Linked DNA regions of Homo sapiens. The protein of the gene in region 1 purifies or fractionates together with the protein of each later gene. This does not show direct contact. Each region holds a gene or a part of one and is shown on either strand. Other genes may lie near its edges.

What was found.
Region 2: the proteins of DNAI1 (region 1) and ESPN purify together in Homo sapiens (affinity purification with mass spectrometry; one large-scale study listed by BioGRID and IntAct). This does not show direct contact.
Region 3: the proteins of DNAI1 (region 1) and ZNF318 purify together in Homo sapiens (affinity purification with mass spectrometry; one large-scale study listed by BioGRID and IntAct). This does not show direct contact.

What each region holds. Positions count from the first base shown.
Region 1 is NC_000009.12:34,517,764-34,521,594, reverse strand, and holds the end of DNAI1 (dynein axonemal intermediate chain 1), read right to left. Parts: intron 938-3,831; coding exon 839-937; 3' UTR 611-838; downstream 1-610. Other genes in the region: ENHO (adropin precursor), read left to right, coding at 1-130.
Region 2 is NC_000001.11:6,455,727-6,458,711, reverse strand, and holds part of ESPN (espin), read right to left. Parts: coding exon of another isoform or gene 2,515-2,985; exon of another isoform or gene 2,041-2,514; intron 1,529-2,040; coding exon 1,449-1,528; intron 1,352-1,448; coding exon 1,340-1,351; intron 1-1,339. UniProt on the Homo sapiens protein: Multifunctional actin-bundling protein. Plays a major role in regulating the organization, dimension, dynamics and signaling capacities of the actin filament-rich microvilli in the mechanosensory and chemosensory cells.
Region 3 is NC_000006.12:43,335,553-43,338,781, reverse strand, and holds the end of ZNF318 (zinc finger protein 318), read left to right. Parts: coding exon 1-1,624; 3' UTR 1,625-2,712; downstream 2,713-3,229.

The DNA.
Region 1 (3,831 bases):
CCATTCTCGCTCTGCCGACGTTGACTCTCTCTCTGAATCCAGTCCCAACTCCAGCCCTGGCCCCTGTCCTGAGAAGGCCCCACCACCCCAGAAGCCCAGCCATGAAGGCAGCTACCTGCTGCAGCCCTGAAGGCCCCTGGCCTAGCCTGGAGCCCAGGACCTAAGTCCACCTCACCTAGAGCCTGGAATTAGGATCCCAGAGTTCAGCCAGCCTGGGGTCCAGAACTCAAGAGTCCGCCTGCTTGGAGCTGGACCCAGCGGCCCAGAGTCTAGCCAGCTTGGCTCCAATAGGAGCTCAGTGGCCCTAAGGAGATGGGCCTGGGGTGGGGGCTTATGAGTTGGTGCTAGAGCCAGGGCCATCTGGACTATGCTCCATCCCAAGGGCCAAGGGTCAGGGGCCGGGTCCACTCTTTCCCTAGGCTGAGCACCTCTAGGCCCTCTAGGCTGGGGAAGCAAACTGGAACCCATGGCAATAATAGGAGGGTGTCCAGGCTGGGCCCCTCCCCTGGTCCTCCCAGTGTTTGCTGGATAATAAATGGAACTATGGCTCTACCCTGAGGTTTTCTTCTCTTCCTGAGGGCCCTGTGGTAGCACAATTAAAGGTGTGGGGTGGGTTTCTACACAGGTTTATTTGTGCAAAGTTAGAGGGGTAATGGTGGTTGAAGACCAAGTCCTGGGGTAAGGTGCTGGGACCTTAAGGAACAGAACAAGAAGGGAAGATGCTGGGACCTGATCAGGAGTGGGGTCACATGCTGGGTGCTAAGGCTGGGCTGGGTACCAGGGTCAAGCCCTAGGAGTACTGTATTCAAGCGATGGGACAGAGACTGAGGCCAGCCCCTCAGGTCTTGATTTTCACTTCCCTCACCAGGTTCAGCAGTTTGTCCAGTTTCGCAATCTCCACAGCTGGACCCTTCTGCACCTCCTGCCCCTTCTTTTCCTGGGGAGAGGGAAAGTATACATGAGGGAGGAATGGTGGGCCCCCCCTCTCTGGGTCCCAGCACCACCTCCTCTGCCCAGCCTGTCCAGCTGTGCCCTACCCCTCCCCTGCCCAGTAAATTCTGGATCCCTGCCTCCCCTCTCCCTGACACGATCATTCCCCAACTCGGGTTAGGTGACACAGGGGCTCAGCTGACAGCTTGCAAAAAGGAGTCCAGCTCTGGCTTGAACCTCAGATGGACATGGGGTCTTGATGCTTGTGGGAGTGGGAAAAGGCATCCATTCCCTGACCCTCAGGGGAACAACCTTCCAGGCCAGGGAAATCCAGCTCTGCGAAGGCGGGGGGCTGACTGCTGGCACCATCCTTACCATGGGAAGGTCCCTGGCCGAGACCTATCAAGGAGCTAATGGGTATGTGTTTGGGGAGGGAGGGGCTGTGGACAGAGCCTCAGGGGCCCGGACCTCACCTAGTCCTCTCACCTGATGCCTTCAGGTCAGGTTGGCAGTGGGTGCTATTTGGGGCGAGACCTGCTGTGTCAGACATACCCAGGGTTGGGAAGAGTGTCAAGAGACCCATAAGGGCAGAGGGAATAGTCCATGTGACTCCAGGTGTCGTTGGCTGAGGTTGTCCTTTAGAAGACCAGATCCTGAGTTTATGACCCAACACCCTACCTGCAAAGCACTCCAATCCTTCCATTATAAGTTGGACACTGGAGTGTGTGTCACCCACAGGTCCTGAGAACTCCTTGGCAGACCAGCACCAGTCCCACCCTCCCTGCTGTCCAGGCAGGGGGGTGAGGGCTGTGCTGGGGCAGGCTGGGCAGTTGCCATTTCCCCATTTCCTGCCTTCGCTGTGCTCCTGGGCCCCCATCCTCTCAGCCACCTGTGCCCACTGCTCACTGACACCTACCCCAGCCTTACCTTGGTCTGGCCAGGGCTGTAAAGGGGATGGGGAGGGGTGAGTGCAGGGCCAGTAGGCCCTTCCCTGGCTCCTTTTTGGCTGCTGTCACCATGTGGAGCTCAGATTTCCCCCTGCTGTGACCCCATACCTGCTCCCAAATTTTCTCCCCTATCCGCTTGCAGCCCAGTGCCTTTTTGCCACTACCTAGCTCACCTCTACCCTCTGCAGGCAGAGCACAAAAAAGCTCTTTTTCTCTCTCTTCCCTCTCTCCTTCCTAAATTAAGCTTGGGTTCTCTTCTTGGCTTCACCCCATCCCCTGGGAGTTAGGGGACCTGGTTTTAGTTCCAGCTCTGTCATTAACTCCCTATATGACTTTGGGCAAGGCCTTTGCCTTTCTGAGCTTCAGTTTCCCATCTATCCTGTAGTTAGGGAAAGACAGTCTTTGGCCTTGGACTCTTTGGGCTCTTGACACCCATCATGGGAGCTCCCTGGGCAGGGAGGTCCAGACCTCTGTGGGGAAGCCATTTGGAAAGGGCAGGGAGTCTGCAGCTCACAGAGGAAGGGCAGTAGGGATGCCCAGAGGATTTTGTTTTGCATGAATCACTTGGCTGATAGGGTCAGATGGCAATTTCACGGGAACCTCTAATCCACTCAAGTACCCACCAGCCCCCACCTGTCCCTTCTCAGGTCCTCAGAGACGTAGGTCCCCAGATACACACAGCCCAGCTCTCCCAGCCATGACTGACCCTTCTCTGAGGGGAACTGAAACTATGGGAGATGCTTACCTCCCTGGATCAGAGTGGGCAGGGCAGGCTCCCACCCATGTCTGACCCTTCTCTGAGGGGAACTGAAACTATGGGAGATGCTTACCTCCCTGGATCAGAGTGGGCAGGGCAGGCTCCCACCCATGTCTGACCCTTCTCTGAGGGGAACTGAAACTATGGGAGATGCTTACCTCCCTGGATCAGAGTGGGCAGGGCAGGCTCCCACCCATGTCTACCACCCTCATGGTGTCATGGCTGTACTCCTCCCCCAAAGAATGACCATCATCCCTCCTGGAGGGTTGTCCAACTCTGCCAGCTTCAACCTGGGTCTCTCTCCTCAGAAAATTAAGAACACATTTTATCTATTCCACAAATTATGCTTCCTCCTTCCTCCTCCTTGAGGCCAACTAGCTGGGCTCAGCAAAGAGATTCAGACCACGCCCGACTCCCTCCCTCCCCTCAAGCCCACCACAGCCTCTGGGCCACAGCTGCAGGCGCTTAGCAGCCTTTTGAGTATTTATAGCCAAGTCCACCCTCTCCCCCAGCTGGCTACAATTACAGGGCCAGCCACACTCCCAGCCCTTGCCTCCCTGGCCATGGTGGGGAACAGGCCAAGCCAGCACCAGAGGGATGGTGCCGCAGTCCCTTCCTTGGTAGGAGCACAGTGCAGGGAAGACAGTAGTCGAAAGACACAGGCCCCTGCCACTGCCTCAAACTGCAGTAAATGCCTCAAATTGCCAGGAGGGATGGTCATTAGGGCAAGCTGGCCCAGTCCTGATCCTGGCCCAGAACCTGGCAGAAAGCAAAGAGCCATCTCTACTCTTAGCACACAAATGGGCAGGACTGGGCTCTGGGTTCTTGGGCTCAGGATTCCAAGGCCCGGGCTGCAAAGCCTGGGTTCATAAGTCTGGATCTGGACTCAGATCTAGACTTTAAGGTCATCGCTCTGGGCTCCAGACCTGTATTTGGGGCCCTTGGCCTCTGGGCAGGGTCTCCTGATCATTGGAGACCCTAGAAACAGGAACCAGAGCTCAGAAGGAGGGCTGCATAGCTGCTGACCTAGTTACTCTCCTTGCGGCTCATTTCCTTCCTCTCTGTGTAGACCCACAGCTCCCAGCTCAGGGACCACTGGGGCTGAAGCCCTGTGAAAGCCCAGTCAATGAGGCAGTGGCTCAGCCCCAGGCCCCCTGCCTGGGTGACCTGTCCTACCCACAGCATTTCCACTGGGAA
Region 2 (2,985 bases), on another chromosome or scaffold:
TGATCCACCCGCTTCAGCCTCCCAAAGTGCTGGGATTACAGGTATGAGCCACTGCGCCCAGCCCCCTGCAGCTAATTAAAAAAAATTTTTTTTGCAGGCCTGGTGCGAAGGCTTACGCCTGTGATCCCAGCACTTTGGGAGGCTGAGGCGGGTGGATCACCTGAGGTCAGGAGTTCGAGACCAGCCTGACCAACATGGCAAAACCCGGCCTCTACTAAAAATACAAAAATTAGCCGGGCGTGGTGGCGGGCGCCTGTAATCCCAACTACCAGGGAGGCTGAGGCAGGAGAATCACTTGAACCCAGGAGGTAGAGGTTGCAGTGAGCCAAGATTGTGCCACTGTACTCCAGCCTGGACAACAAGAGCAAAACTCTGTCTCAAAAAAAAAGAAAAAAGCCAGACTTGGTGGCTCATGCCTATAATCCCAGCACTTTGGGAGGCCGAGGCGGGTGGATCGCTTCAGGTCAGGAGTTTGAGACCAGCTTGGCCAACATGGTGAAACCCCATCTCTACTAAAAATACAAAATTAGCTGGGTGTGGTGGCACACGCTTGTAATCCCAGCTACTTGGGAGGCTGAGGCAGGAGAATCACTTGAACCCAGGAGGCAGAGGTTGCATGAGCCCAGATCGCCACTGCACTCCAGATTGGGTGACAAGAGTGAAACCCCATCTCAAAAAAAAATTTTTTTTTTTTTTTTTTTTTCGCAGAATGAGGTCTCACTGCATTGCCCAGGCTGGTCTCAGACTTCTGGGCTCAAGTGGTCCCCCTGCCTTGGCCTCTCAAAGTGCTGGGATTACATGTGTAAACCACCATGCCTGGCCAAAGACTTACTTTTACAAGAGGAGTATAAAACATCTCATTAATAATTTTCATAATTGATTATGTGTTGAAATAATATTTTTGATATTTTGTGCCAAATAAAACAGTACTAAAATGAAGCTCACCTATATCCTTCTACATTTTCACTGTGGCTACTAGAAAATTTTAAATTACATCTGTGGCTCTCATTACATTTCTATTGGCCAGCACTGGGCTGGGTGAGATGACTAGGGGCAGAAAGTACATTCTGAGGGCCAGACAATCAAGGTGATTGATAGTGGGGTTAGGTTAACTGAAGGGTAGAAAAGGCCAGGTTAATAGGAGGCAGGGACTGAGTAACCGGGAACAAAGTTATTAGAGCATGAGAGAGAGATTCTGGGGTATTATAGGGAGGAAGGAGGCTGTGCTACAAGGGCCAAGAGACAGGAGGATGTACTCAAATTGGCCTGGATGAAGGGACGACCCTCTGCGACTTGGGTGGGGATAAGGGTGGCAGGTTGGGGCCAGCCCTGCACTCACCGCTTCTGCTCCCTGGAAGGAAAAAGAGACAGTGTCACTTGGTACCTCCACCTCAGGGACGCAGTCAAGACACCCTGCCAGGCCAGCCTCTGCCTGACCCCCAGCTCACCTCTCTTCTTCCAGCTTCTTCCGCAGGAGGTCCCGCCTCCAGGCGGGCATGCTGGCCAGCCGGGCCTCCTCCTCCTCCTCCTGAAACACAACCACAAAGCTTCAGGGCCTGCAGGGGCTGGGAGATAGGGGGCACCCTCAACCTCGGGACCTGAAGGAGTCAGGGTCACAGGAAGACATCCTTTTGATGCACATCTGTGTGACAAGTGGATGGAGGTGCCTGGTCACACCCCCTCAGAGCTGGCCTCCTTTCCCCTAGTAACCCAGACCCTCATGTCCTACAGGAGGCACCAGAGAGATCAGAGCTGAATGGGACAGAAGCAGAGAACAAGTAGCTGGGACCCAGAGGTCCTGAGCCTGATTCCCCGCAGAGGCAGGTGGCCAATGGCCACAGGCCCAAGACCTCTGGGCAGACGCAGATGCCAGCCAGCCCCCACCCAGCCTCTTGGCTCAGGGAGACTCAGGCTGCCCCTGGCTCCCCTGTGAAGGACCTTCACCCCATGGTTGCCATCTTCCCAATAGAGTGGATACGGGCACTACAATCGTGGGGCTACAATGACATCAGGGGCAGGTGTGGTGTCCAACGCAGGCAGTTTACAGCAAAGAGTTTTATTTCCTGAATGTTACAGAGGAGAACGGGTCTGTACACGGCACACTTCACACAGAACACTGCACACGTGGCACCCTTGACCTCAGCCAAGGAGGTAGCTGTGAACTCCAGTGGAAAACCAAAGAGCAGGCCACACTGCCGCAAGGAGGAGCCGCAGCCCCTCACTCAGAGGGGCTTCTTCTGCTGCCTGGCTCCACACAGAGCTCAGCAAGGCCACGGGGCCAGAGGCGGACACCTGGTCTGTTCTGTGCCTGCCCTGCCTATCCGACCAACGCCCCACAGCCCGCCACGATGGGACCTCAGAGGCTGAGGCAGCCTGGTCCTGGGCCCTCCGGGCTGCTCAAGGCCACAGTCCTGGGCTCTTCCTGCTGCTTCCAGCCTCTGGAGGGCGTCAGACAGGCGTCCAGGCCCACGTTAAGACGCTCGAGGGTGAACTGAGAATTCCGAATTCCGCTGCTCAGATGTCAAACAGCTCTGCCTCCTTCTCTTTCCAGAAGGAGAAGCTGCGGTCGATGTAGCGGCAGATGTCCTCGTTGCTGAACTCGCCCATCTCAGACACCAGTTCCAAGGGGTCTTCGGCGGGGGCTTCGGAACCAGGAGAGTCTGAGGTCGGGGGAGGCGCGGCGGGCGGGGGCGGCGGCGGCGGCTGCGGCGCAGGGGCCAGGGCCTCGGGCTGCCCCTCAGGCGGGTCCCCCGTCTGAAATGGAGCAGCCTCTTCGGTCCGCTCCTGTTCTTTCCCCTCCTCTTCCTTTTCCTTCGCCTGTTCTTCGGGGGCCGGCTCAGCCTCCAGGCCGTTTCCGAAGAACCGGTGCCTGAGGTCCTCGAAGCCGTCGCTCCAGCCGCGCCGGCCGGCCTCCACCTCCTCCAGCACCACGCGGTGGAAGAGGCGGATGCGCTCCCACGGGTGGCTGCCCAGTCGGTCGAACAT
Region 3 (3,229 bases), on another chromosome or scaffold:
GTGCAAAGAATCTCAGAAGTTGGTAGAAATCCACCTCAGAGAATCTGTTAACCAGGATAAGGAAAGCCAAGAGCTCCGTAAATCTGAGGATTGTAGAGAAAGTGAGATAGAGACAAACACTGAACTAAAAGAAAGGGTAAAGGAGCTGTCTGAGGGGATAGTTGATGAGGGAGTAAGTACCAGCATTGGACCCCACAGCATAGATGATTCTAATTTGAACCATGGAAACAGATACATGTGGGAGGGAGAAGTAAAACAGCCCAACTTGCTAATGATTGACAAAGAGGCTGAACAGTCCAATAAATTGATGACAGGAAGTGAAACTCCAAGTAAAGTAGTGATCAAATTGAGTCCACAGGCTTGCTCTTTCACAAAGGCAAAATTAGACTCATTTTTATCAGAAGCTAGGTCTTTACTCAACCCACAAGATACACCTGTGAAAATTTCTGCCCCAGAGTTGCTGCTTCATTCCCCAGCCAGATCAGCTATGTGTTTAACAGGTAGTCCACAAGAGCAAGGAGTTTCAGTTGTTAGTGAGGAGGGGCTAGAGAATTCAGCTCCAGAATCAGCTTCTAGAACTTCTAGGTACAGAAGTCTCAAACTCAAGAGAGAAAGATCAAAAGACTTTCAAGTTAAAAAGATCTATGAGTTGGCTGTTTGGGATGAAAACAAGAAGAGGCCAGAGACCTGGGAGAGCCCAGAGAAACCAAAAACAGAAGCACTGGAGCTACAAGATGTCCATCCAGAGTTAACAGTGACAATAGAAAGCAAGGCCCTAGAAGACTTTGAAGCTACAGACTTAAAGGTAGAGGAGCTTACTGCCCTGGGGAATCTGGGGGATATGCCTGTTGATTTCTGCACTACTCGGGTAAGCCCAGCACATAGATCCCCAACTGTCTTGTGTCAGAAAGTGTGTGAAGAAAATTCTGTATCACCTATAGGGTGTAATTCCTCCGATCCCGCTGACTTCGAACCAATCCCATCTTTTTCTGGGTTTCCGTTAGATTCTCCCAAAACCTTGGTGCTTGACTTTGAGACAGAGGGTGAACGAAACTCACCTAATCCCAGGAGTGTTAGGATCCCTTCTCCTAACATTTTGAAAACTGGACTTACAGAAAATGTTGACCGTGGCTTGGGGGGCCTAGAGGGAACACACCAGGCCCTTGACCTGTTAGCAGGAGGAATGATGCCTGAGGAAGTAAAAGAATCTTCCCAATTAGACAAACAAGAGTCACTCGGATTGGAATTAAAAACAATTAATTCTGCAGGCCTTGGGCCATCTCCTTGCCTTCCAGACCTTGTTGACTTTGTCACACGGACCTCTGGAGTTCAAAAAGATAAACTGTGTTCTCCACTCTCTGAGCCAGGTGACCCTTCTAAATGTAGTTCCCTGGAGTTGGGGCCATTACAGCTAGAAATATCGAATGCATCCACCACAGAGGTGGCAATTCTGCAAGTAGATGATGACAGTGGCGACCCTCTGAATTTGGTTAAAGCTCCAGTGTCAAGGTCCCCTCCAAGGGAGCAGGTAATTGAAGACAATATGGTCCCTCAGGGAATGCCTGAACAGGAAACTACAGTTGGTGCCATCCAGGACCACACAGAATCCAGTGTTCACAACTAAGAATAAATACCTAGAGCTACTTGTGAGTGAATCATTGGCTTCTAGAAATCAGATGCCCAGATGATCCAAGACTAGTTTGTTATCTCATCTGGAACCTACACCAAGAGATGCAGTCAGCATCTTAAAGTAAATGTTCATGGAAGCTAAAAAATTTACCTCCTTTCCTTTTCCCTTTCCCCTTAAAACACCAGACAAATCGATAACAACTTATATATATATATATATATCTGTAAAAATGTATTTTGTTAATTTTTTTGGCCAATTTATTTTCTCCCACTTTGTCATTAAAATCACATGTCTAACTGGCTCACCACATAGTGTGCTTTGATTGTATTTTGGCTTTGACTCTGCCATTTCTGAAATGTGGGGGAGGATGGAGGCAGCTGACCTCTCCAGTTGCTGTGTTGTATTCCTACCCAATTTCCTGGGCAGTTGATGCATCTCTGGGAAAAACACCAGAAAGCTTGCTGAAATGGAAAACTTGGAAGAATTGTTCATCTCTTAGGCTTCCATTTGGATGGGCCTGCCTTAACATTGTTTGAAATGCAGCGTGAGTAGCTCTTTTGTTTACTGTTTACACCCCTTATTGGCATGTCAACTCCTGTACTTCCCTTACTCTGTTGCCTTTCTTGAGATGCATTGTCCTGCTAACCCACAAACCTGTTTGGAAATAAACATGGAAGAATATCTGGCAGGCTTACTTTTAGAAGACGACAAATCGGTAAGGCTTATTCATGGTTCATTGCCAGGAGCAGATATGCTTTTGAGATCACTTTTATTTTTGAAATGGCCTTTGTTCATTGTATTGTGATCCAATAACACTTTGTATTAAATTGTTTAGCAGCCATTTGTGTTGTGAAGGGGTAGAAGATCTCTGAAACTTGTCTTGAGATTGAACTCATTCCCTGTTCCACAAACCCATATGTATCCTTTCCTCTACCTCCTCCTTTCCCAATTAATTTCAACCATAGTACGATGTTTGGGGTTGTATATTTTGTTAAAAAGATTAAAGAATTTATGAGTTGGCTTGGACAAGTTTAACTTTATTTTTAATGTGTTAATTACTTGGAATAAATGCATTAATCTCATGTTTCCTTCTGGATTTTTGTTTTGAAATCACACACATTTGAACTCCAAAGGAAAACTAGAACAGTGAATCCCTGCTGCCCTATTGTCTATCCGCACCCGCAACCATGCTTTCCTCACTTGTCAGAACTACTTCATGCCAGAATGTTAGGATATATAGTCTGCCCCAGCGCAGCCTGGGTGGGTAGTGAGTAGGCAACAGTTGTCTGGTATTGGTATCTTCCTGTTGTGAAGCTTTTTATATACCTTTGTGTTGACTCTCCGTAGGATTTTCTGGGAACTGAGCTCCCCTAGGACAATCAGGTTCTTGCTCTTGGGAATTAGGGAGCTCAGTCCTCAGATTTTCTCTGTCCCAGTTTCCTCTTGTATCCCTGTTGTCAGCAGTTTATAACCTGACTCAACAGGGCCTTCGGAGTCTTATTTACCCACCTGTTCCTCAAAGATAATACAAAATTGCTGATCTGGATTAACCTCCCCGCTCCCCCAATTTTTTTTTTCCTGTTTCCTTATGTACAGAGC